Homo sapiens: one gene and its partners. The protein of the gene in region 6 purifies or fractionates together with the protein of the main gene of each other region. This does not show direct contact. Each region holds a gene or a part of one and is shown on either strand. Other genes may lie near its edges.

What was found.
Region 1: the proteins of SLC38A8 (region 6) and CMTM4 purify together in Homo sapiens (affinity purification with mass spectrometry; one large-scale study listed by BioGRID and IntAct). This does not show direct contact.
Region 2: the proteins of SLC38A8 (region 6) and GOLGA5 purify together in Homo sapiens (affinity purification with mass spectrometry; one large-scale study listed by BioGRID and IntAct). This does not show direct contact.
Region 3: the proteins of SLC38A8 (region 6) and OCIAD1 purify together in Homo sapiens (affinity purification with mass spectrometry; one large-scale study listed by BioGRID and IntAct). This does not show direct contact.
Region 4: the proteins of SLC38A8 (region 6) and GPR180 purify together in Homo sapiens (affinity purification with mass spectrometry; one large-scale study listed by BioGRID and IntAct). This does not show direct contact.
Region 5: the proteins of SLC38A8 (region 6) and VKORC1L1 purify together in Homo sapiens (affinity purification with mass spectrometry; one large-scale study listed by BioGRID and IntAct). This does not show direct contact.
Region 7: the proteins of SLC38A8 (region 6) and IRGQ purify together in Homo sapiens (affinity purification with mass spectrometry; one large-scale study listed by BioGRID and IntAct). This does not show direct contact.

Annotation. Positions count from the first base shown.
Region 1 is NC_000016.10:66,686,744-66,690,243, forward strand, and holds part of CMTM4 (CKLF-like MARVEL transmembrane domain-containing protein 4), read right to left. Parts: intron 1-3,500. UniProt on the Homo sapiens protein: Acts as a backup for CMTM6 to regulate plasma membrane expression of PD-L1/CD274, an immune inhibitory ligand critical for immune tolerance to self and antitumor immunity. May protect PD-L1/CD274 from being polyubiquitinated and targeted for degradation.
Region 2 is NC_000014.9:92,807,805-92,811,304, reverse strand, and holds part of GOLGA5 (golgin subfamily A member 5), read right to left. Parts: intron 2,006-3,500; coding exon 1,786-2,005; intron 1,052-1,785; coding exon 928-1,051; intron 1-927. UniProt on the Homo sapiens protein: Involved in maintaining Golgi structure. Stimulates the formation of Golgi stacks and ribbons. Involved in intra-Golgi retrograde transport.
Region 3 is NC_000004.12:48,858,588-48,862,087, reverse strand, and holds the end of OCIAD1 (OCIA domain-containing protein 1), read right to left. Parts: intron 1,932-3,500; exon of another isoform or gene 1,885-1,931; intron 1,364-1,884; coding exon 1,326-1,363; 3' UTR 273-1,325; downstream 1-272. UniProt on the Homo sapiens protein: Maintains stem cell potency. Increases STAT3 phosphorylation and controls ERK phosphorylation. May act as a scaffold, increasing STAT3 recruitment onto endosomes. Involved in integrin-mediated cancer cell adhesion and colony formation in ovarian cancer.
Region 4 is NC_000013.11:94,600,444-94,604,656, reverse strand, and holds the start of GPR180 (integral membrane protein GPR180 precursor), read right to left. Parts: upstream 2,801-4,213; 5' UTR 2,730-2,800; coding exon 2,585-2,729; intron 1-2,584.
Region 5 is NC_000007.14:65,879,574-65,883,073, forward strand, and holds part of VKORC1L1 (vitamin K epoxide reductase complex subunit 1-like protein 1), read left to right. Parts: intron 1-3,500. UniProt on the Homo sapiens protein: Involved in vitamin K metabolism. Can reduce inactive vitamin K 2,3-epoxide to active vitamin K, and may contribute to vitamin K-mediated protection against oxidative stress.
Region 6 is NC_000016.10:84,015,296-84,018,795, forward strand, and holds part of SLC38A8 (solute carrier family 38 member 8), read right to left. Parts: intron 1,993-3,500; coding exon 1,845-1,992; intron 1,433-1,844; coding exon 1,224-1,432; intron 1-1,223. UniProt on the Homo sapiens protein: Electrogenic sodium-dependent amino acid transporter with a preference for L-glutamine, L-alanine, L-histidine, L-aspartate and L-arginine. May facilitate glutamine uptake in both excitatory and inhibitory neurons.
Region 7 is NC_000019.10:43,586,135-43,589,634, reverse strand, and holds part of IRGQ (immunity-related GTPase family Q protein), read left to right. Parts: 3' UTR 1-3,500. UniProt on the Homo sapiens protein: Autophagy receptor that specifically promotes clearance of misfolded MHC class I molecules by targeting them to the lysosome for degradation.

The DNA of each region.
Region 1 (3,500 bases), about 17 Mb from region 6:
TATTTTTTTTTTAAATGTTCAGAAATGTGGTGGTCTTGTCCTTTGATGTAGTAAAAGCACTCCTTGAAATTTAACCAAAAATAATAATTCAAAAGAAGAATCCAGGCTACACTCATGAGGACATTTATTGACGCATCTTCCTAATAGCAAAAAAACTAGAAAACATAATCACCAGACTTTGCCACAGGGGATCATATGTAGCCTTTGGAAAGGAAAAAATTTCCAAGTCCTTTTCATTTGAGTCTGTCATAATACGATGATTATTTTTCTAATTTCTAATTTTCTTTAATGTTACAACATTTTCACTAACAAATGAGGGTAAATTCCTTTCAAATGGAAGAAGTTTTCCATTAGCATCAACAAATTTATTAAGCACCCACTATTGTGCAGAATGCTTTTTTTTTTTTTTTTTTTACAGAAAAGTGCATTTTAAAACAATTTAAGCTTCAAGTTTGTCCAAGTGGTCTGTATTATCTAAATCATTCTTCCCAAGGGCCTCCAAATTACAAAGAAAGTCATGAAAAGTTAAAGATTACAGTCAGTATATGAGCTTTAAGGCTATACTAAGGTAAAGCTAGTAACATCTACTATTTTAGTAATTTTTGAATAGAAGGTACTTGCATGTGGTACAAAATTCAAGGGCTGGGAGCAGTGGCTCATGCCTGTAAACCTTGGACTTTGGGAGCTGAAGGCAAGAGGATCGCTTGAGCCCAGGAGTTTGTGGCCAGCCTAGGCAACATAGCGAGACCGTCTCAAAAATAAAATAAAATAAAATAAAATACAAAAGGTACAAACAGTTATACAGCAGAAAATGTCTCCCTGACACCCTGGCCCTCGGCCACCCAGCTCCCCAACTTGTATCATTCCAGAGATATTCTGTATCACTATCAGTCTGTTGTCTGTTCTGGTTGCTATAACCAAATACCGTAAAAAGGGTAATTTTTTTTTTTTTTTTTTTTTTTGAGACGGAGTCTCGCTCTGTCGCCCAGGCTGGAGTGCAGTGGCGCAATCTTGGCTCACTGCAAGCTCCGCCTCCTGGGTTCACGCTATTCTCCTGCCTCAGCCTCCTGAGTAGCTGGGACTACAGGCGCCTGCCACCACACCCGGCTAATTTTTTATATTTTTCATTGAGACCGGGTTTCACCGTGTTAGCCAGGATGGTCTTGATCTCCTGACCTTGTGATCTGCCCGCCTCGGCCTCCCAGAGTGCTGGGATTACAGGTGTAAGCCACCGCGCCTGGCCAAAATGGGTAATTTATAAATAGAAATTTATTGCTCATAGTTCTGGAGGCTGGAAACTCCAAGATCCAGGTGCCAGCAGATTCAGTATCTGAGTGAGGGCCCATTCTTCACAGACGGCACTTTCTATGTGTCCTCACATGGCAGAATGAGCAAGGACACTCCCTTCAAACTCTTTTAAAAGGGCACTAATCCCATTCATGAGGGCTGAGCCCTCATGACTTAATTACTTCCCAAAAGGCTCCACCTCTTAATACTATCACACTGGGTGTTAGGTTCCAACATCTGAATTTTGGGGGAATGCCAACATTCAGACCATAGCAACCTCCAACAGGCTTTGATGACGTGGTGTCTTGAGACGCTGAGCTAGGGAGCATGGTGGGCTCACCAGCACTGTAATACTACCATTATCCCCAACTTACAATCCCCAAGTGAGAGACCTGCAGGAGATCTGCTTGTGGCCTGAGTGAACAAGTAGCTTGCCAAAAGTCTCATGGCCGATAAGAGATACGAAGTCCATCATACTCTCAGAAACACTCCCCTCAACACACACACACACACACACACACATTCTACCCTAAACAAGGGTGACTTCATGTCATTGTTCTCTCTCCCTGGAACATACCTCCATAAACCATCACTAGCCCTTTGCCTGGCTAATATAAAGTTTAGAATCAGCATTCTTCTATCTACAAAAAAACCTTGCTAGGATTTTGGGATCGTATTAAACCTATAGATCATTTGTGGAGAACTAATATTTTAACTATATTGAGTTTTCCAATCCTAATGAACACAGAATGCCTGTCTACTTATTTTGGTCATCTTTGATTTCTTACTTCAGTGTTTTGTAGTTTTCAGTGAGCAGATTCTATACATGTTTTGTGAGATTTATATCTAAGAATTTCATTCTTTTGAGTGCTGTTATAACTGATATTGGTTTTTTTGTTTTAATTTCCAATGATTTATTGCTAGGATATAAAAATACTATTGGTTATCGTGTGTTGACCTTATATCCTGTAACCTTGCTAACTCACTTATTAGTTCTAGGAGGTTTTTTATAGATTCCCATGTGATTATCTACCTAATCATGCCATATGCGAATAGGGACAGTTTTATTTATTTCTGATCTGTACGTCTCCTATTAATTTTTTTGCAACGGCTAGGACTTCCAGTATGATCTTGAATATGAGTGGTAACAGTAAACATCATTGCCTGTTTCCCATCATGGGGGAAAGCATTCATTCTTTCCCCACTGTAACATTATATATTACAGTATAATGTTAGCTGTAGATTTTTTGTAGATGCCCTTTTTCAGGTTGAAGAAGTTCCTTTCTCTTCCAAGTTTGCTGACAGCATTTATTATGGAAAAGTACTGAATTTTGTCAAAAGTTTTTTTTTTCTGCATCAAATGATAGAATCATGTGGCTTTGGGTTTTGTTTTGTTTTTGAGAAACGGTCTCACTCTGTTGCCCAGGCTGGAGTGTAGTGGCACGATCGCGGCTCACCGCAGCCTTGACCTCCTGGGCTCAAGCAATTCTCCCACCTTAGCCTACAGCTGGGACTACAGGCATGCACAACCATGTCATGCTAATTTTTGTATTTTTTGTAGAGAAGGGGATTCACCATGTTGCCCAGGCTGGTCTTGAACTCCTGGGCTCAAGCAATCCACCTGCCTCGGCCTCCCAAAGTGCTGGGACTACAGACATAAGCCACTGTGCCTGGCCTGTTATTTTAAGTTATTAATATGGTGTACACCTATAACATTTACTTTCAAAAACTGCACCAACCTTTTTGTTCCTGGGATAAATCAAATTGGTTTGGTGTATTATTCTTTCTCCATTATGCTGGGTTTTATTTTCTATATGGTATTTTGTTGAGGATTTCTGTGTCTGTGTTCATATAAGGAATATTGGTCTGTAGTATCATTTTCTTGAACTGTCTTTGTGTGGTTTTGTAAAACACATGTACGCTCTACATTTAACAACTTCTTTTGAGATCGTGGATTATAATTTCACTATTTTTAATCATCAAAAAAACTTAAGAGTAATTATAACTTTGCTTTTCTGCCAGAATTTATTTGACTCCAAGTCCTTGATCAGGAAGACAACTCCTAAAGATAACAATCTTCCTAAAGGAAAATGGGACTGTTTTACAAGGAGCCACAGAATGGTGGATCTGAGAATCCAACATAGAGAAACCCACTGCTTCATCTACCATTATGCGCTTGTATATGCATGACTTCAGGGATAAATGGGAGCCAG
Region 2 (3,500 bases), on a different chromosome or scaffold from region 6:
AAGCTTACTAAACTGGAATTTTCAAGATGGGTCTGGGAATCTGTTTTTTAAGAAATTTCCCAGGTGAACCTGGTCACTTGGATACTAGGTCTGGTCTGATACTAGCTGATCAACTGTTTCCAATTTAATAAGTAAATAAATAGGTGTAAATTACACCATATTTTAAAGAACCAGTATTCAAAAAATAATGTAAAATATCTCATTAATAACTTTTAATATTGACTACATATTGAAATAATTAATACTTTGGATATATTGTGTTAAAATTAAGAGACACACACTACCTGATATTTACTTTCAGGACTGAATTACTTTCACCTGTTGAAAAGCTAGCCCAGACCAGTGGTTTGCAACCCTGACTGCTCATTAGATACACCTGTGAACCTTCTAAAACCAAAGTGTCAATACCTAGTCCCTACCTCATACAATGGAATGTGACTGCATATGGAGCTCAGACAGCACAAGGTATCACACAAGTGATTCCCACGTGTAGACAGGGCTGGGACTGAACTAAATGCAAATATTCATCTAAGAGTAAAACTCTTTACATATTACATACAATTTTCTCCTGAAATAAATGAGCCAGATTAATCTGGAATCAGAAAAACTTAAATTAATAAAAAACAAATACGATCCCCCAACCATTAGCATTTAATCAAATAATGACAATGATTGTTGCAAAAATTAAGTAAAAGATGTATATCTCTAATGCACATTAACTATTTTAATTGTCTCTCAACACATAAAATTAAATACATTTAGCAAGGATCAAGCTAAATTTTCAAATATCTGATTTTTGTCACAGAAACAGAATTTTCTGAAATGCATTGCAGAATTATATTAGACAGTTAATGTGCTATGAAACAGCATAAAGTCATTTTTTCCGTGTCCAAGTAACAATAGGAATCTGCTGTCTCTCATTCTAACCTGCATCTGTTTATAGCTCTCCTGCTCTCTCTTCAGAGTGGCATCCGCTTCATGCAGTCTCTCCTGAAAAGTCTGCAGAGCTTGATTCTGCAGGCTGTTACCTTCACTTTGATCCTGCATTATTCTAAAGGAAAATGCATCATGTGAAATAACTCATGTCTACAGTGTACAAGTGATAAGGCAGAATAATTTTTAGAGCGTCAGCTTTAGTCAAGCACAAAAAAGATAATTTGACTGAAATATTCTTAGATAAATCTTTCCTTTCTAATGGAACATAATCTACATTTTTAGGCATCCAAATATTAAGTACATACCGTATAATGAAAGATTAATGACACAACAAATGCTTTTAAATTCAGAATTTGCTAACAATGCATCTCAAGGTTCAAACAATGAATCCATTTTATGTTGTTGTTGTTGAGATGGAGTTTCGCTCTTTTTGCCCAGGCTGGAGTGCAATGGCACAATCTCAGCTCACTGCAACCTCCACCTCCTGGGTTCAAGTGATTCTGCTGCCTCGCCTCCTGAGTAGCTGGGATTACAGGCATGTGCCACCACCCCCGGCTAATTTTTTTTCTGTATTTTTAGTAGAGACGGGGTTTCTCCATGTTGGTCAGGCTGGTCTCGAACTCCCAACCTCAGGTGATCCACCTGCCTCGGCTTCCCAAAGTGCTAGGATTACAGGCTTGAGCCACCACGCCCAGCCAATGAATCCATTTTAATCATACACATTTCTAACACTACCAAAAGAAATATTCCCTCTTGTAAATTTCCAAGAAAGCTAAGTTTCATAAGTGGATACACTACAATGTTTACCATTACTTGCTCATTTTTTTCATTATTCATAGAATCACCTACCGTGATTTTTCACTCTGTAAGGCTTCTAATGCTTCTGTGCGAGTACTCAGTAGCTGGTCAGCTTCCTGGAGTCTCACTTTCAGTACAGCCAGCTGGGAATCCTTTGCAGCCACAGCTTCAGTCAGGTCATCTACTTGGGCTCGGAGTCCTCGAGTCATTCGATCACTCTTTGAATGGTCAGCATTCCACTTTTCAACTCTTGCTCTTGCTTTGTTTAATTCTATTAAAAAATTTAAATTTCTCTATACAAGCAAAACCAAACACATTTTTCTCAGAGCACGTACAGTTTCTACTTTGAGTGCCTTTAGTACTTTCCTTATTGACAAAATTGGGAACTTACACGTCTTCAATTTTCTTTGCCCCAAAGGGTCATCCACTTTTCAAGGGCAATATTCACAGCTAGATTATAGTTAATTGATTAGAAAGGGGCGTGAAGCTAGCTGCTCTTCTACAATGCTGTTTCTATATGATAAAGCATCTGGGAGCCGAAACTAGTATTAATAGATAGCAGAGTATATTTTGTAAAGTTCTGCTAGTGACAGGGAAAGGAATGCAAATCCAAATCAAAGGTACATCCTAGTAAGAACAAAACAAAACCTAAACACAGAAAAGAATCTATTGCTTTCAATTACTGTTGCAAAAAGATGTTATTCTTTTGACCTAGGAAATCAATGCAAAAAGAGCAAAGTAGTGCTCTATTTCAGAATACAATGGCATTTCCATACCCTCACATACCATATGTAATTGCAGTTAGCCACCACAACATTTTAAAAATACTGAATCAAACTTTATAGGGTCTCAAAGCTTTTTTTTTTTTTCCAGTGAGACACACCTTTCTTAAAGAAAAAAAAAAAAACCCAAAAACATGAGACAGAGCCTCACTCTGTTGCCCCGGCTGGAGTGCAGTGGCATGATCATGGCCCATGACTCACTGCAACCTCCAACTCCTGGGCTCAAGCAATCCTCCCACCTCAGTCTCCAAAGTAGCTCAGCCTACAGGTGTACACCACCATATTCAGCTAATTTAAAACAAAAAAAAATTGATTTTTGTAGCCCAGGGGTCTCACTCTGTTGCCCATGCTGTTATTGAACTCCTGGCTTCAGCAATTTTCCCATCTCAGCCTTCCAAAGCGCTGGGATTACAGGCGTGACTCACTGTGCCTGGCCAAACAGCTCTATTTCTATGTCTAAATTAGTGTGGGTAAAGTAAAGCTTTTTCTAAAGTCAGCCTGACTAGTGAGTACTTTGTTTTTGTTGTTGTTGTTGTTGTTGTTGAGACGAGTCTCGCTCTGTAGCTCAGGCTGGAATGCAGTGGCACGATCTCGGCTCACTGCAACCTCCACCTCCTGGGTCCTGGGTCTGGGTTCAGGCAATTCTCCTCCCTCAGCCTCCTGAGTAGCTGGAATAACAGGCACGCGCCACCATGCCCAGCTAATTTTTTTGTATTTTTAGTAGAGACGGGTTTCACCATGTTGGCCAGACTGGTCTTGAACTCCTGACCTTGTGATCCGCCCGCCTCGGCCTCCCAAAGTGTTGGGATTACAGGCGTGAGCCACCACGCCTAGCTTAGTGAGTCTTCAACTATCTTCCCTTTCCTCTCTTCTAGGCTCTATCCATGGCTTGGCAAAACTTTTCCCACCATCCCCTCACTCCTTTCTAATTAGCCCCAGGAACCAAGGCAGCAATTTTGTCACTCGTTTTCTTCTCAGCCACAC
Region 3 (3,500 bases), on a different chromosome or scaffold from region 6:
AAAATGGTGTAGTATTTACATATAACCAATGCACATCCTCCTATATACTTTAAGTCATTTATAGATTACTTGTAATGCCTAATGTAAATGCTATGTAAATAGTTATTACAATGTATTGTTTGGGAATAACAAGAGTTCAGTACAGACAACCATCCATTTCTCTCCCTCAAATATTTTCAATCTGCAGTTGATTGAATCTGCAGATACGGAACCCACAGATACGAAGGGTCACTGTACACCAATTTTTCTTTTTAACATAATATCAGTCTCTGTGATGTATACCAAATTTTTATTGTTTTAGAATTTACAAATTCTTTAAAAATGCTTTTTAAGGCATTTACCTATTTACTATATTATCAATTTATCTACATAAATCACATTCATTATATTTTTATTTTTTTAGACACAGGGTCTCACTCAGTCGCACAGGCTGGAGTTCAGTGGTGTGACCACAGCTCACTGCAACCCAGAACCACTGGGTTCAACTGATCCTCCCAACTCAGCCTCTTAAGTAACTAGGACTACAGGCACACGACACCATCGCCAGCTAATTTTTATTTTTTTGTAAAGACAGGGTCTCGCTTTGTTGCCCAGGCTGGTCTCAAACTCCTGGACTCATGCAATCCTCCCACTTCGGCCTCCCAAAGTGCTGGGATTACAGGCATGAACCACTGCCCACTGCCTCCAGCCATATTATAGATTTATAGCCATATTATAGCCATATTATAGAAATATTATAGATGACTTTATTTCCTATACCTACATGATTATAACTAGCTTAAAAATAAATCAATAAATTACAAACAATAAAACCATAAAATCAAGGAAGATGAGGGCTGTTGCATGTTCCTTTACATTTTATTTGCCATAAACATTAAGATAATACAGAAAATACTGGAGAAAAAAAGCTTTTTAATAATTTCTTGATGCAAAGCTTCACACTTAAAAATTATGCTTGCTCCCCCCATCCACCCCAATTCAACATGCAGATATCATTTATTTTCTTATATGCTGATTCTAGAGCATTGTAATCTCGACGGTTTTTTAAGAGTTATCTTTGCCCTTGCAACAATTTCACAAACTGTATACAATCATGGTATAATACCATCATTCAAATGAATCCCTAAGGTGAGTACATTTACACAATATTAACACTAAAAATCTGTGTTTTTTTAAAACACCATAGAAGTCAAACCACAAAAACCCAGGATCTTGTTTTAAATGTGTTTATGAAGACTGCTGCTGAGCTCAAAGCATGCAGGTAATCATGACCACCTAGATGAAGCTGGATGTTGAAACTCCTTCATGTCCAATGATGTAATTTTTCACTCATCCCAAGTATCTCCATACTTGTTTACTTTGACTAGGAAAAAAGCATAAATAATTGATGATTCCAAGCAATAATAAGTAAAAGACATTATTTTAAGTTTGTTGCTATGATGAAAAGTTATGTTTCTCTCTCATTTGAATAAAAGCACATGAGAGTCAAATTATAATTACAAAAAGGGGATGACCAGACTTTTGTGAACTTGGGGTTGGACAAATGCATTGTATCTAGAATTTTACATAAATAGTTAGTCCTCATAACAAACTTCTAAACACAATTCTCATTTTAATGGTGAGAAAAAAGATTAGTAACTTGCCCAAGGTACAAGCCCTAACAAGAACTGAGATTTGAGTATAGGTCTGTTTAGATCCAAAGCCTAGGTACCTTTACATCTTTACCATACTACCTAAGTGTGGCACATATTAAGCCATATACAAAAAAAAAAAAAAATAGTGGGAAATAATAAAACAAACATTTGAATTTTCGTTTTTCACAAAAAATACAGCAGTAGAAATGGTCAAGTGTTCAAGTTGTAATTAATTCAATCTTCTCTCTCAGGGCTGTAAATACTACTATAAGAAGAAAATACTACTACATTTTACAGGTACTCTATATTTTACATTTTAAAACATGCTCCGCTGTCTATTCTACTCCTTTACTTTTTTGCTTCTCTTCCACATAGCTTCTGTCTGTGAGTAATCATAACAATATAAAGCAGCAGTTATCACAGTGTGGACTCTTCAGGGAATACATGAAGTCAAAATTATTTCATTATTATACTAAGACATTATATATCCTTATGTTTCACATTTTGCCTTTTCCCCTTGCTCTCATTCCCTCATGAGTATATGTTACATGGTTTTCTAGAAGCTACAGGATGTGTGGTGACATTGCTCTGGCAGCTAATGGAATATGTGCTTGAATTTTTTAAATTTCTGGGTCTTAATTTCTAATTAGATAAATATCAACCACATAAGCTAAAGGTGAAAACTTTAAGTGACACTTTCTGACCATGTGAATCTACCCTGTACTAATTTCAACAATAATTCAGAAAATGACTGAAACTATTTCATAACAAGTCTTTTCTTTAAATTATATAAAGCACACAAAAAACCAGCTTTTCCCAAAAAAAGAAAAAATCATTTCACATTCTTGTGTCATGTAACAGAACTTGAAGACTTCAGTCAAAAATCAAAAATGTCAAAATCCAGCAAATGTTAAAGGTCTACCAAATTTCCTTTCTTAACCTCTATTACCATAGAAGCCTAAACCAAAATACTCAATTTCTGATACAGTGTAAAGTACTATGCTATGCAGACAATAATAGAAAAGATTACAAAAATGAGAAAAATATTACTTTCTGCCCTCACAGAGCTTACAATCTAAATCCTCAAATTAATTAGCAGGACAAAGTACCGACAAGTCTTTACATATTACAGAGCAATGGCCACTAGATGCAGTTTATGCTAAATGTTGTTTGATGACAAACATTCAAAAGTATGGTACATCCCTAATTCATTTCAAAGGTAGATTTTTTTTACATCAATAATATGATGCAGATATTATCTATCATTGTTATAAAAACAGAACTCCAAACGAAGCAACCGCTAATGATTAAAAATAAAATTAGCTCTAAAAAATGACCATAACAACAAATACTAAGGACTTTCATGTATTTTTGCATTCTTTGTGGCATATGACCTTCAAGAAGGTACCAAAGACCTATTATTTCCATTTTTAAAGTAGTAAATAGAAAATCTTGAAACAATGACACATACTCTGAAATTCCTTAAGAGAAAATCATAAAACCCTATACTGAAATAGCTATAAAACCCTATTCGAATGTCCTCTTCCTTTAGAGGTAAACTTGTATCAAAAAATTTACTTTGGCTAATGTATAGCTATTCCAAAAAGACTTAAAAGAAACCAGGATTTAAAAATTCATCTTTAAGAAATGCCTTAGAAGCTGGCATATAACTCTTTCAAATTCACAAATGTACAAGAAAGGTCAGGCACAGTGGCTCCCACCTATAATCCCAGCATTCTGGGAGGCCAAGGTGAAAGGACTGGTTGAGCCCAGGAGTTTGAGACCAGCCTTGGCAACATAGGGAAAAACCCACTGCACCAAAAAAAATTTTTAACAGCCAGGGATGGTGGCATACAACTGTAGTCC
Region 4 (4,213 bases), on a different chromosome or scaffold from region 6:
CTGCAGTCAGCTTTGATTACACCACTGCACTCCAGTCTGGGTGACAGAGCAAAACTCTTTTTTTTTTGAGACAGAGTGTTACTCTGTCACTCAGGCTGGAGTGCAGTGGCGCAATCTCGGCTCACTGCAACCTCCACCTCCCAGGTTCAAGCGATTCTCCTGATTCTCCTGCCTCAGCTTCCTGAGTAGGAGTAGCTGGGATTACAGGCATGCGCCTCCACACCCAGCATCACCACATCCAGCTAATTTTTGTATTTTTAGTAGAGACAGCGTTTCACCATGTTGGCCAGGTTGGTCTTTTTTTTTTTTTTTAATTTATTTTTGAGACATATTCTCGCCCTATTGCCCAGGCTGGAGTGCAATGGCACGATCTCAGCTAACTGCAACCTCCGCCTCCCCGGTTCAAGCGATTCTCCTGCCTCACCCTCCCAAAATAGCTGGGATTACAGGCACCTGCCATCATGCCTGGCTAATTTTTATATTTTTATAGAGACGGGGTTTCACCATGATGGCTAGGCTGGTCTTTAACTCCTGACCTCAGGTGATCCACCCACCTCAGCCTCCCAAAGTGCTGGGATTACAGGTGTGAGCCACCACGCCCAGCCACCAGGTTGGTATTGAACTCCTGACCTCAAGTGATCTGCCCACCTCTGCCTCCCAAAGTGGTGGGATTACAGGCAGGAGCCACCCAACGAGTCTGGCTTCCTTTTTAAAAAAAAAGAACTTTCAGAATAATATATGTTGTAAGATGAATACAGAATGAACCTGGTTGCACACACCAACTACATTTAAGGCCCAGAACAGAAATGGCAGTAAGTTATTGCCTCTAGGGAAAGGGATTCTGGGTGAAAGAGCTAAGACAGGAGACTGTTTTTCATTTTAAGATCTTCTATTCTCCTGGAAATTTTTTTTCTATGCTTTTATTACTATAATTACCACTTTGATTAAACATTTTAAATATATTTAAATATACAGTATATATATCAAAGAATGTGCAAGTCTCTTACATAAATTGATTACATATTTTGAAGTCTTACAAGTGACTCTGAGGCCCAATTGACACTGTAAATTGCATTCCGAGTTACAGTTCATTGTTTCAGTATAGTTTTTGTATTATTATTTTACTGAATTGGGATTCATGAAAATTGGTAATAACTATATGTGATTTTACACATATGAAACAGAATGAACGCACTTGAAACACCTTATCCCCAATCTGTCTTGAGAAATCTGAATTTAGTACATGTTTCTCCTCCACGTTTACCAGATGATCATCAGGAACTATGAGGTCGTCCAAGTCTCTCTGCTGGTCCTAAGTAATAACCCACGTCTTCTATACATCCCACATTTTCCAACACTGTCCACATTGTGCCATTTAAGACAGTGGCTGTCAATACTCAAAGTATGGTTACAGTCCGTTGAATGAGAAACTCAAAATGTTACAAAAAATAATAAAATTGTTTCTAGTGTTTCTTCTTCATTCACCCAAAATATATTCCACATTGGATTTTGAAAAACTGGGTTACTGAAACTCCTTTTCTTAGCTATCTTAAAAACTTCAAAAAAAAAAAAAATCAGGATCCCTTCCCTTTATTCTGTCAATTCTGTAATTTCCCAATACTTTAAATTCCTTTTCTCACCAAAGTAGTTCCGTTTCTATTATCTTCTCCTAACAATATTTTCTAGGCCAATATTCTGATGTTCATCGTTGCATCTTTTAATGCTAAAGACTGTACAAATCAAAGTTCCTAATGTCATCAAGGCAAATAATTATTTGAAATACAGCACTAGTCAAATTAAGAGTACCAAGAAAAACACTTAAATTGTGAGAGTGCAAATGAGACCAAAATTAGAATGAATTGCAAATGCATTTATTGAAGGAATAATTACTGATTTTTGAGGAAGACCAAAAGGTCTGAAATCAAACGCAACTCTGATTTCAGAAGAGCCACACAGAACACAAATTAGGGAGCTTCCAAGATGCTACTTAAATGCATTTTCATCAGCTTAATTCTAGGCCTTACTGCCCATAGTAAATCTACTGCCCTAGTAGCCAAGTAACCAAACTGCTCAATATAACAACTACATTATCAAGTGTTTTACTTGGTTTCCAAAACCACTCTGTTGCAAGTAGGTCTCAGGAAATTGGTCTTTAAAAAAAAAAAAAAAAAAAAGGAAATTTAAGTTTCTAGGGTTAAATTCTCCCGTCACAGTGTGGCCGAGACAGGAAGGAGCAAATATGCTTCTTTGCGGGAAGGATCTGGAAAGATGCGGCCGACCAGTCTTTTGCACATTGGCTTCCAAGGGGAGGGTTGGGGAAATGGAAACCAGCTTTCAGGTGCGGAACACGATCACTAGTGGCGAGAGGCCGCTGCCTGGGGCTGGAAAGCCGCACCAGCGGGGTTGGCAAGGAACGCATCCCACCATTCGCGGCAGCTGCTGCAACGCTGGAGGTCCAGGTGAGGCTGGGGAAGTCGCCGGCCTCGCCCAACGTGGCAGGGAGGGGCCGGGAGGAGCGGCCGGCGGACTCAGCCGGCGGGATGGGCCAGCGCGCCTTCATCCCCCTCCCCGCCCCCAGACCTACCATGGAACTCGAAGTGGCCGATGCGCTGGCCCTGGGCGTCCTGGGCCGCGGTGCTGCTGAAGCTGCCCCGCAGGGTCTTACCCTGGCTGCCCTGCGGCCACCAGCAGCACGTGAGGGCCACAGCCAGCAGCCGCAGCCCCCCCATGCCCGTCTCCAGGTCTGCACCGACGCCTCGGCTCCCAGCCGCCGGCGGCTGCCCGCCCCACGTCGGCAGCTGGGGGAGGCGGGGTGGGCGCCGGAGACCTGCTGCTCTGGAGCCTGAGAGCCAATGAGGCGGGCTCCTCTGCCATAAGCCGAAGACATTCACCAGTCAGAGGCCGAAATGGGCGGGACGCGCAGATCCTAGCGTCCCATCAGTCCCCGGCTTTTGACTAGTTCCCGCCTTTTTCTTTAATGAGGAATCAGGAGGATGTTGCTTCAGGTTACGGAAAACTCATCTCCCTCCTCATTGCCTAGCACGTCTTGCTACTGAGCATGCGCGGGCGCGCTGGCACGAGTCCGCGGGGCCTTCGAAGGGCTTGTGGGATTCGGAAAAAACTTAAGAAATGCAGGACAGGACTGTTTCTGGCCGAGAGAGTTAAACTCCCGCAAAGAAAAAACTGTGTTCTTATGCAGATTTTCTTCCTTGGCGCCTGTATAACCTACAGGACGTGTCCGATTTAATGTCTCAAAGACACTTAGCTCCGCATGACCACAATTTAACGCATGCCTTCTCTTGGCATCTCCAGCCGATTTTTCCCTCCTAGGTTCTCTGGCTTCTCGAATTACATTACCCCCACCCCCACCCCCGCCCGCAGACCAGACCGCTGGGAATTGTAGGCCCCCCCCCCCCCGCAATTCAATCAATTCAATAACAAGTGTGGATTAGCCCTTCTTCTGGTGAGGGTGGGAAGCAGCGGCCACAGTCCTACTCAGTTCATCACTTTGTTGGCCTATGGCAAAGACCGTCTCTACAGTCTTCATTCTAATTGGCTACAATCCATCTCTACCCTACAGCCACAGAAAGCTGTAGGAAACAATTTGCTGCACTTGCCTTGAAAGGTTCTCAATTGCCTTTAGCACACAACCCAAACTCTAGAATATGGCTCTTCAACTCTCAAATGTCTGTTTTTTCTCATCTCCATCCTTACCGCCGTTGGTTTCCTGAACACTCCCAAGTTCTCCCTTCTAGGCCTATATCACTCCCTGATCCCTCTGGCTAGAATACTTCTGCTTATTCCAACACTGGACCTCCTCACCTTCCTTTTCCTCCTTTACTCCTCCTTCCCAAGGCACTTTAAGAAGCCTTTCTCAAACCCCTAAGTCTGTAGTAGATGCCCCTGGAACCAGAATCCCTTACTTCCCTACCAGAGCACTCACGCACTGTACTGTAAGTATCCATTCATGTGTCTGAAATCTCCGCCTCTATTGTCAGCTCCAGCTGGTCAGTGACTACACTTTTTTTTTTTTTGAGACGGAGTTTCACTCTTGTTGCTCAGACTGGAGTGCAATGGCGCGATCTCGGCTCACCTCAACCTCTGCCTCCCGGATTCAAGCGATTATCCCACCTCAGCCTCCCGAGAAGCTGGGACTGCAGGCATGCGCCACCATGCCCGACTAATTTTTTATTTTTAGTAGAGATGGGATTTC
Region 5 (3,500 bases), on a different chromosome or scaffold from region 6:
GTAGTACAGTGGCAGAGGCCTGATTCTAACCCAGGCAGTCTGGCTCAAGAGTCCAAGCTCTTTACCACTACTCTTTCGTCTTCCTTTCTTCCTTTCCCTCCCACCCTCCTTCTTCCTTTCCTTTCTTTTCTCTCTTTCTTTTCCTTCCTTCTTTTCTTTCTTTTTCCTTCCTTCCTTCCTTTTCTTTATTTTTCCTTCTTCCTTCCTCCTTCGTTCCTTGCTTCCTTCTTTCCTTTTCTTTTTCTTTCCTTTCCTTTTTTTTTCTTTCCTTTCTTTTCTTTCTTCTTTAACTTTTTGAGACATTGTCTCACTCTGTCTCCCCAGGCTGAGTGCAGTGGTGCAGTCATGGCTCACTGCAGCCTCAACCTCCCTGGGTCAAGTGATCCTCCAACCTCAGCTTCCTGAGTAGCTGGGTCTACAGTTGCACACCCCACCATGCCTAGCTAATTTTTTCTATTTTTCATAGTGACGAGGTCTCACTTTGTTGCCTGAGTTGGTCTCAAACTCCTGGCCTCAAGCAGTCTTCCCACTTGGCCTCCCAAAGTGCTGAGATTACAGGTGTGAGCCACCACGCCCAGCCTTTTACCACTACTTTAAATTCCATTTAGATCTAATATTGATAGAGTGATAACCATATCAACCAGATTTTTTAAATATGCAAACAATGGTGCCAGTTTCTGTATCTATGTGACAAAAATATATAGAGTTTGTGGTATCACTTTTACCTGTTTAGAGCACTCTTTGGAAAGGCAGGGAAATTACTGTGAAGGTATTGGTATTCCAGAAGTAAGTTCCTGGAGTGTTTGCCTTCTAAGGTGTGAGGACGTGGTTTGTCACACCCAGTTAACTAACAGATAGACGGTGTAGTGAGCTGTCCGGAAGACTTAGCAGGTTAGCCTAGGGAGGAAGGAGAAAGGGGTTCTGGGCACATGGAGGGAGGGGGAGGGAAAAGAGTTTGTTTGAATCTGTCCTAGATTGGGGTAGCTTTTTCGGAGGGAGGCCTTGTCGTGTGGACCTGCTGCATATAAAGACAGGAGAATTGGACCTGAGGTGTGGTGCTAGCTAAAGCGCCACACAGATCTGGGAATTTAAGAGGAGTTCATTTCCTCAATCATTAGGAAGAACTTGAAAGGGTAGCAAACTGTGGTCATTTGAGAAGAACAGCAAGTGGTCATATTTGAATGTAACATATTCAACTGGGTTGGGAAAGAACCAGAATCTAGATCTTGCCCATAGCAAGTGCAAAACCAGGCGTTCTTATAAACCATGTACTCTTGTAAACACTGATAAGACATAGCACTGAGTCCTGAGCTTTTCTTCTATAAAGTTATTGTACAGGTTGAGGATCCCTAATCCGAAAATCCAAAATCTGAAATGCCCCTGTGAGCATTTCCGTTGAGTGTCATTGGCACTCAAAGTTTTGGATTTTGGACCATTTCAGATTTTGAACTTTCAGATTTGGGATGCTCAACCGGTATATAATGCACATATTCCCAAATCTGAAAAAATCCCAAATCCAAAGCATTTCAGCTCCAAAGTGTTTCAGATAAGGAATATTCAACCTGTACTACATTGTACTAGGCTTGTATTAGATTCCCAGTTTTCAAAATTTGTATCTCAGAATCCCTGTTCTCTGTCAATGAAACAGGGATTTCATACACCTTTGATTCACATTTTAATGTTTTAAGTTTAAAATATTATAAATGTTTATACACAGTCAAATGAATCTCATGCTAAATTTTAATATATTAGAGACAACTGATTTGTCTGCCAGGTTATCTCAAGAGAGTTAATACTGAGTGAAAACAAGTGAGAACCCTAAAAGATTACATACTGTATGATTGCATTTATGTAACATTATTGAAATAACAAACCTGCAGAGATGGAGAACAGATTTAGTGGTTGCTAGGAGTTAGGAATGGGAGGTGAGGGGTGGTGTGGTTATAAAGTGGTAGCATGAGGGAGCTGTGTAGGGATGGAACAGTTCAATGTCTCAGGTGTGATTATACAAAGCTGCAAATGTGATAAAAACTTCATACAACCACACACACACATACTGCATATAAATCCTAGCGTACTCAAGTCCCATTTTGCATACAAAACTGGTGAAACCTGAATAAACTCAGGATTGGAGGAATTTGGGCGAGGGTACTTGGGACCTCCCTGTGTACTTTTTTGTAAATTCCTGTGATTTATAATTATAGTAATTTTAAAATAAAAAGTTGGCCAGGCACAGTGGCTCATGCCTGTAATCCCAGCACTTTGGGAGGCTGAGGCGGATGTATCACGTGAGGTCAGGAGTTCAAGACCAGCTTGGCCAACATGGTGAAACCCCATCTCTACTAAAAATACAAAAATTAGCCGGGCATGGTAGTGGGTGCCTGTAGTCTGAGCTACCTGGGAGGCTGAGGCAGGAGAATCACTTGAACCTGGGAGGCAGAGGTTGCAGTGAGCTGAGATCATGCCACTGCACTCCAGCCTGAGCGACAGAGCAAACTCTGTCTCAAGAAAATAAAATAAAATAGACTGGGTGTAGTGGCTCACGCCTGTAACCCCAGCACTTTGGGAGACTGAGGCGGGTGGATCACCTGAGGTCGGGAGTTGGAGACCAGCCTGACCAACATGGTGAAACCCCATCTCTACTAAAAATACAAAATTAGTCGGGCATGGTGGTGCATGCCTGTAATCTCAGCTACTCGGGAGGCTGAGACAGGAGAGTTGCTTGAACCCAGGAGGCAGAGGTTGCAGTGAGCCAAGATCACGCCATTGCACTCCAGCCTGGGCAACAAGAGTGAAACTCCGTCTGAAAAATAAAATAAAATAAAATAAAAAGTAAAAAAGCAAAAAAAAAAAAAAAGTGCATTTAGAATATTTGAGAGAAAATAAGCAAAAGGAAGAAAATGTAAATTATCTATAATGCTTACACCCAGGACAATAATCCTTGGAATAGAGTGTCTCACTTTGTGTATAGAAATGAAACTTTTAAAATGCCATTTTATTTTTTAATTAAAATTTTTTCTTTCCTTTTTTTTCCTCCTCAGAGTTAGAAAGGATAAAAATGTTATTGATTAGTAAGACTGTAGCTTTATGTTGATATTTTGAAATTTTAGGCTAGTGCTTGTTTGTTCATGTAACATATAAGCACATTCAGTACTATTAGAACTGTTGCATTATGCAATAACATGACTGCCTAATGCATATATCAGGATTAGTACATATTGTAAAGTTTTTATTTTTTACCAAAATGTTTACGACTACCAAGTATTCATTCCTTAACACTATTACATAATTAATTTAGAAATGTTTTACTTTTAAAACTTCTGGACAGGTGTAATTAAATCCTTAGATAGCGTTAATGTACTATTTAAAAAACACACACAAAACATTATCATTGGCAAAACATGCTTTATCATCTATTCATCTTTGTGAATCCGGTTTTTCTTGATACCATGCCATCAAAACAAAACAAATTTGACATAAGACTGCCCAATCATCCATAA
Region 6 (3,500 bases):
TCCAGCCCCCACCTTGCTGGCTTCCCCTTCTCAGATAATGCTTGGGCTGTTTGGGAAGGTTTCCTAAGAAACCATCCTTCGCAGAAACGGTGTTTGCCTCCAGGGCCTGGAGGCAGGAGGGAAGGGAGACATTTGCAGGGTGCCTTGAGCCACGTGACTTTCACATATACGATTTTCTTTTTTTAATAAAACAAAATCTTTTAGCAGGAGGCACCAGCGGTAGCATGGACAGAGCTGTATGATTGACCCTCAGCCCTGCTGCATACTAGCTGTGCCCCCGGCGGGGGTTCAGGGCCTCGGTCTTCGCATCTATGGAATGGGATCATAAACGTTCCTACGTCAAGAATGTCCATCAGGAGCTGTATTAGTCTGCTCTCATGCTGCTAATAAAGACCTACCAGGGACTAGGTAATGGTTTGTTTTGTTTGAGATGGAGTTTCACTCTTGTCGCCCAGGCTAGAGTGCAGTGGCGCAATCTTGGCTCCCTGCAACCTCCGCCTCCCGGGTTCAAGTGATTCTCCTGCCTAAGCCTCCTGAGTAGCTGTGATTACAGGCATACACCACCATGGATGGCTAATTTTGTATTTTTAGTAGGCTGGTCTCGACCTCCTGACCTCAGGTGATCCGCCTGCCTCGGCCTCCCAAAGTGCTGGGATTACAGGCGTGAGCCACTGTGCCCAGCCAGAGGCTAGGTAATTTATAAAGAAAAGAGGTTTAATGGACTCACAGTTCCACATGGCTGAGGAGGCCTCACAATCATGGCAAAAGGCAAATAAGGAGCAAAGTCACGTCTTACATGGTGGCAGGCAGGCAAGAGAGCTTGTGCTGGGGGGCGGGGGGGGACCCCCACTTATAAAACCATCAGATCTCATGAGACTTATTCACTACCACAAGAACAGAATGGGTGGAACCATCCCCATGATTCAACTATCTCCACCTTGCCCTGCCCTTCACAGATGGTAATTATTACAGTTCAAGGTGAGATTTGGGTGTGAACACAACCAAACCTCATCAGGAGCTAATGAGATGTTTAATGAGTGAGGGAAGGTATGTAAAGCCCAAGCCTGTGCCTGGCTCAATAAAAAGGGCACCTACATGGGGTCTTAATCCTACCCATATGTGGCTCCCACCTTCCAGAACCTTGACCTCCAACACTGGGAGTCCCCACAGAGATGAGCAGGGAAGAACAAGTGGGCAGAAAGCCTGGAAAGCAGGGGCCTCACCTGGGAAGATGAAGATGAAGAAGGAACTGATGCCTCCGATGATGCTGACGATCTCGCTGAGGTCAGGCATAAACAGCGCCATGGCGAGCGTCACGGTGACCCACAGGATGGTCAGCGGCATCCGGACCCACAGCCCTGAGGGGTCGGCCAGGGCGCTGGGCCCCCATCCCCCCAAGCAGCTCCTCCTCCAGAAGTCCTGCATCACTGACCTGGAGGCCACAGCCAACACAGACACATGGGCATCTCAGGGGCACCAGCCTCCACCCGACAGCTGCTCCCCAGTCCTCCAGGAGTCCCCTCACACCTGTCAGTGCTCCTGTTCCACACTCAGGTGTTTATTCCCCAGGAGACCTTGCCAACCCTCAGGGGTTCTGCCACCATCGGGCAGCCCATGGGGCAGGGGATGAAGCACGTGGTTCGCATTCCAGTCCTGGCTGTGGACACACACTCACGGAGTGACTTTGGGCAATCTACCTAAATCCTCTGTGCCTGTTTCCTCCTGTCTACAATTGGAGAGGATGGTAGTCCCACAGCCGCGTAGCCCACACCTGGTACATGCTCAATCACAGCACACATCAGCAGACCATGCTTCACGGTGCCCCCCACTGAGCCAGGCCTCACCTCCCCAGGAAGAGCACGATGGGGTAGACAGTTACGATGGAGACAGCAAAAAGGACCCGGGCCACAATGATGACCATATCATTGCCTGGGTAGGACATCAAGACGTCAGCAGAAACTTCTGTCCCAAAAGTCAGGAAGCCATAAACCCCTGAAGGTGGGAAAGGATGGAAGCCACAGAGTGGATTAGGAAAATGCTGCCCCCTCCCCCACCAACAGACAGACAGCGCCTGGCTTTACCACCTAAGATTTTCCTTAGGAGCTGAAAGAAGGTTCTGGAAGGGATAGCCCAAAGCTTTCCTGTCCTAAGCCTACACATGACTGTGCTCCAGGGATTCAAGACCCCTGCAGACAAATCCGCCACTTATCCTCCTTTCAAATCGCTCACAGAGCTGGTGCACGGAGCTCACCCACAGTGCGTGTGTTGACTAGAAGCACAGAGCACTTTGAAAAATACAAACACACCTCCCATGCCCTGTCCATCTCACTCCTACGACATCTAAAGAAAGCAGCTAGCTGTGCACACATTTCCAAATGGGGAAAACCAAGAGCCAGGGCATCAACCAATACCTAGAATCACACAGCTAGTTTTCGTGGACTGAGGACAAGAGCGCCATTCCCTTTGCGCCAACAGGGTGACACTGCTTCTGTCACCCCGGGTTGCCTGCCCTGTCCTGAGAGATAGGTCTCTAAGAGCCATGTTCCTTTCAGCTTCTCTGCAAGCCCTTTCTGAGAGGTCCCATGACCCTGGCAGTGGGAACATGTGGAGGTGATACTGAATCACTGAGTCACACCCTCTGACCCAGGGGCTACAGACTGATGGGACCTCCTCTGCTGGGGAAGGAGTCACCCAGCAAGTTTCCTGGATAACCACAGTATCTTAGTCCATTTTTTGTTGCTTACAACAGAATACCTGAAACTGGGCATCTCATAAAGAAAAGAAACTTACTTCCTACAGTTATGAAGGCTGAGAAGTCCAAGATTGAGTGCCCACACTGGTGAGGGCCTTCTTGCCAATGGGGACTGTCTTCAGAGGTGGCATAGGGCATTGTATAGCAAGGATGAGCTCTGACTCAGCCCTCATTCCTTTTTTTTTTTTTTTTTTTTTTTTTTTGAGACAGAGTCTCTCTCTGTCGCCCAGGCTGGAGTGCAGTGGCACGATCTCGGCTCACTGCAAGCTCCGCCTCCTGGGTTCACGCCATTCTCCTGCCCTAGCCTCCTGAGTAGCTGGGACTACAGACGCCCGCCACATTTTTGAATTTTTAGTAAAGACAGGGTTTCACCGTGTTAGCCAGGATGGTCTCGATCTCCTGACCTCGTGATCCACCCGCCCTGGCCTCCCAAAGTGCTGGGATTACAGGCATGAGCCACCGTGCCTGGCCTGGCCCATTCCCTCTTCTTATAAAGCCACTAGTGCCATGCCCATAACCCATCAGTCCATTAACCCATTAATCCATTAAGCCCCTGCCCCATGCCTGCCTCTTATGTGGGCTGTTCAGCTGGACCTAGAAACTAAAATCAACACCAGACAATCACATCAGCAGGAGAAAAGCCTACGGATCTTATTAATTTTCCTTGTCATTGGGATCTTAACACAGTGATGTCTGATGAAGCGGCCGAAATGAGATGCTTTTATACTTTTTAGACAAAGAATAAATC
Region 7 (3,500 bases), on a different chromosome or scaffold from region 6:
ATAGGTGCCTGACACAATAGGTGCTTCGTAAATATTTATTATTATTATTATTATTTTAGAGACAGGGTCTTGCTCTGTTGCCCCGGCTGGAATACAGTGGGATGATCATGGCTCACTGCCATCTCCAACTCCTGGGCTCAAACGATCCTCCCACCTCCGCCTACAGAGTAGCTGGGACTATAGGTACACAGCACCAAATTTTCTGTAGAGACGGGGGTCTTGCTTTGTAGCCCACACTAGTGTTGAACTCCTGGCCTCAAGTGATCCTCCTGCCTTGATGGGATTACAGGTGTGAGCCACCACACCCAGCCTAAATGTTTATTTCATTGGTCAGTGTCAGAACTAGGATTGGAATTTAGATTGTTAATCTCTTGCCACAAGATAGGAAAATGGAGCAAGATGAGGAGAAAAAAGCATTTAATGGGAGAGAACACCCTTGTCTGAGGTCAGGGACCTGGGAAGCAAGCACGACTTTGCCACTGTCACTGTGTGTTACTTGGACAGTGCCTTATTTTCCCATCTGTGAAATAAAAGAGCTGGATAAGAACCTTAGTTTTGAGATCCTGTCTCCCTTAAAAGCTGAAGACAAAGGTAACTGATCCAAGGGCAGACAAGGGATGGTACCATCATCTCCAGCTTGGACTCCCACTGCTGACAAAATTTGTCCCTTCAAAGTTGAGATAGCTACCATGGGGAAGAGCACTTAGTTCTATACTGAATGGCTCCAGGCATTTTCATGAAAGCTCTTTCAGCTTTGGGGAAGAATATTCATCCATATCTTTACCCCATCATATTAGTGTCTAAGCCCTGCAATCAGGCATGTCAGCCACGTGATGGAATGGGAGGGCTGCAGGGCAGCACTGTCCAGTAGAAACGAAATGCAAGCCACATATGTCATTTTAAGTTTTCTTTTTTTGAGATGGAGTTTCACTCCATCACCCAGGCTGGAGTGCAGTGGCACGATCTCGCCTCACTGCAACCTCCGCCTCCCAGGTTCATGTGATTCTCCTGCCTCAGCCTCCTGAGTAGCTGGGATTACAGGCATATGCCACCATGCCTGGCTAATTTTTGTATTTTTAGTAGAGATGGGGTTTCACCATGTTGATCAGGCTGGTCTGGAACTACTGACCTCAGGCCACCCGCCTTGGCCTCCCAAAGTGCTGGGATTACAGGCATGAGCCACCGCGCCCAGCTAATTTTTGTATTTTTATTTTATTTATTTATTTATTTTTTGGGAGACGGAGTCTTGCTCTGTCACCCAGGCTGGAGTGCAGTTGTGCGATCTTGGCTCACTGCAACCTCAGCCTCCCAAGTAGCTGGGATTACAGGCATGCACCATCATGCCCAGCTAATTTTTGTATTTTTAGTAGAGATGGGGTTTCACTGTGTTGGCCAGGCTGGTCTTGAACTCCTGACCTCAGGTGATCCACCGGCCTCAGCCTCCCAAAGTGCTGGGATTATAGGCGTGAGCCACTGCACCCGTCCTAATTTTTGTATTTTTAGTAGAGATGGGGTTTCACCATGTTGGCTAAGCTGGTCTGGAACTCATGGCCTCAAGTTATCTGCCCACCTCAGCCTCCCAAAGTGCTGAGTAAGCCAAGTTTTCTAATAGCCACATTAGACAAGTAAAAGGAAACAGGTTAAATTCATTTTAACATGTTTTACTTAACCCAATGTATCCAAAATAGCATTTCAACATGTCATCGGTTTTTTAGTTTTTTTTTTTTTTGAGATAGTGCTTCGCTTTGTTGCCCAGGCTGGAGTGCAGTGGCACAATCTCGGCTCACTGCAACCTCCACCTTCCAGGTTCAAGTGATTCTCCTGCCTCAGCCTCCCGAGTAGCTGGGATTACAGGCACCCGCCACCATGCCCACTAATTTTTGTATTTTTGGTTAGAGATGGGGTTTCGCCATGTTGGCCAGGCTAGTCTCAAACTCCTGACCTCAGGTGATCCACCCACCTCGGCCTCCCAAAGTGCTAGGATTACAGGCGTGAGGCACCGTGCCTGGCGTCATCGGTATTATTTAAATGAATTATGTTACGTTCTTTTGTGCTGTCTTCAAAATCTGTTATATATTTTACACTTACACCAAATCTCAATTACCATGGTACATTTTTATCTGAAATGCTTGACCTTTATTTTGATTTCATAAAATTCATAGTTGGAGAAGTAGATTCACATATCCAAGTTGTTCCAATTATATAATAGTTTTCCAAAAACTGAGATGGGTGTCCATTTTTTTTTTAAGTAAAGATGCAGGTCTGGTTATGTTGACCAAGTTGCTGGGTTGTTTTGTTTTGTTTTGAGACAGAGTCTCACTTTGTCACCCAGGCTGGAGTGCAGTGGCATGACCTCAGCTCACTGCAACCTCTGCCTCCCAGGTTCAACTGATTCTCTTGCATCATCCTCCTGAGTAGCTGGGACTACAGGTGTATGCCACCATGCCTGGCTAATTTTGGTATTTTTCTCAGAGACGGGGTTTCACCATGTTGGGCATGCTGGTCTTGAACTGCTGACCTCAGGTGATCCGCCCACCTCGGCCTCCCAAAGTGCTGGTATTACAGGCATGGGCCACCACACCTGGCCTCAGCTGTTCAATTAAAAGTAAATACAACTTAAAATTCTATGTTTCATTGGCAGTAGTGCAACATTAATACTGAGTAGCCACATGTGATTAGTGGCTATGGTATTGGACAGGGAAGGTACAGAATACTTCCATCAACATAGAAAATTCTATCAGTCTAGCTCTAGGGGCAGATAGTCCTTCCACTGACTTGGGCAAGTCACTCTACAAATGGCATCTACCTCACATGGTTATGGTGAGAATTCAGCGTATGTATGTACATGCAGGCACACAATATGCACACAGACACATAACATAGTACACCCTTTCCTGAAAAGCCTGACACATGGAGCTCAAACATGAGTGCCACCCACCCCTGGGCAGCACCAAGATGGCTCTAGTCTGGGTGCCTTTGTCTCACCCCCATGCCTTTGCTCGGAGTGTGCTCCTCATTTTTCTGCCACTTTGACCCTGTCTCTGATTTGGTCCTGTCTGACATCACTGCTATATGCTTTGCTCCTCTCAATTTCCTCTGCCCTCATGCCAGCAGGAGTCATGCCAGAGATCATATCTGAGAAAGCAAGACAATTTTGTGTGTGTGTCTGTGCCCATAGAGGAGTGCTGGTTGTGTTGATATAGTTGTAGATTGGTTGTGTTTACACAGTTGTATATATTGACACCCTTGAGTGTTATGACTTCTTTTGGGGGTGGTCGCCTTTTAAATCATAACTTTTAATGGGATTCCATTTTAGTCTTTGTGAAGACATAAGGTTGTTGGCAGGCATCTGTCCCTGGGAGCATCCAAGCAGAAAAGACTAAGACTCCCTTGTAGACAGATCACTGGCCGCCACTGAAGTGTGTCTGCATGGCACCACAGGGCTGGAAGACCCTTGAAGGCAGGAATTCAAGGAAATGTATGATGAATTTTGGCATTGC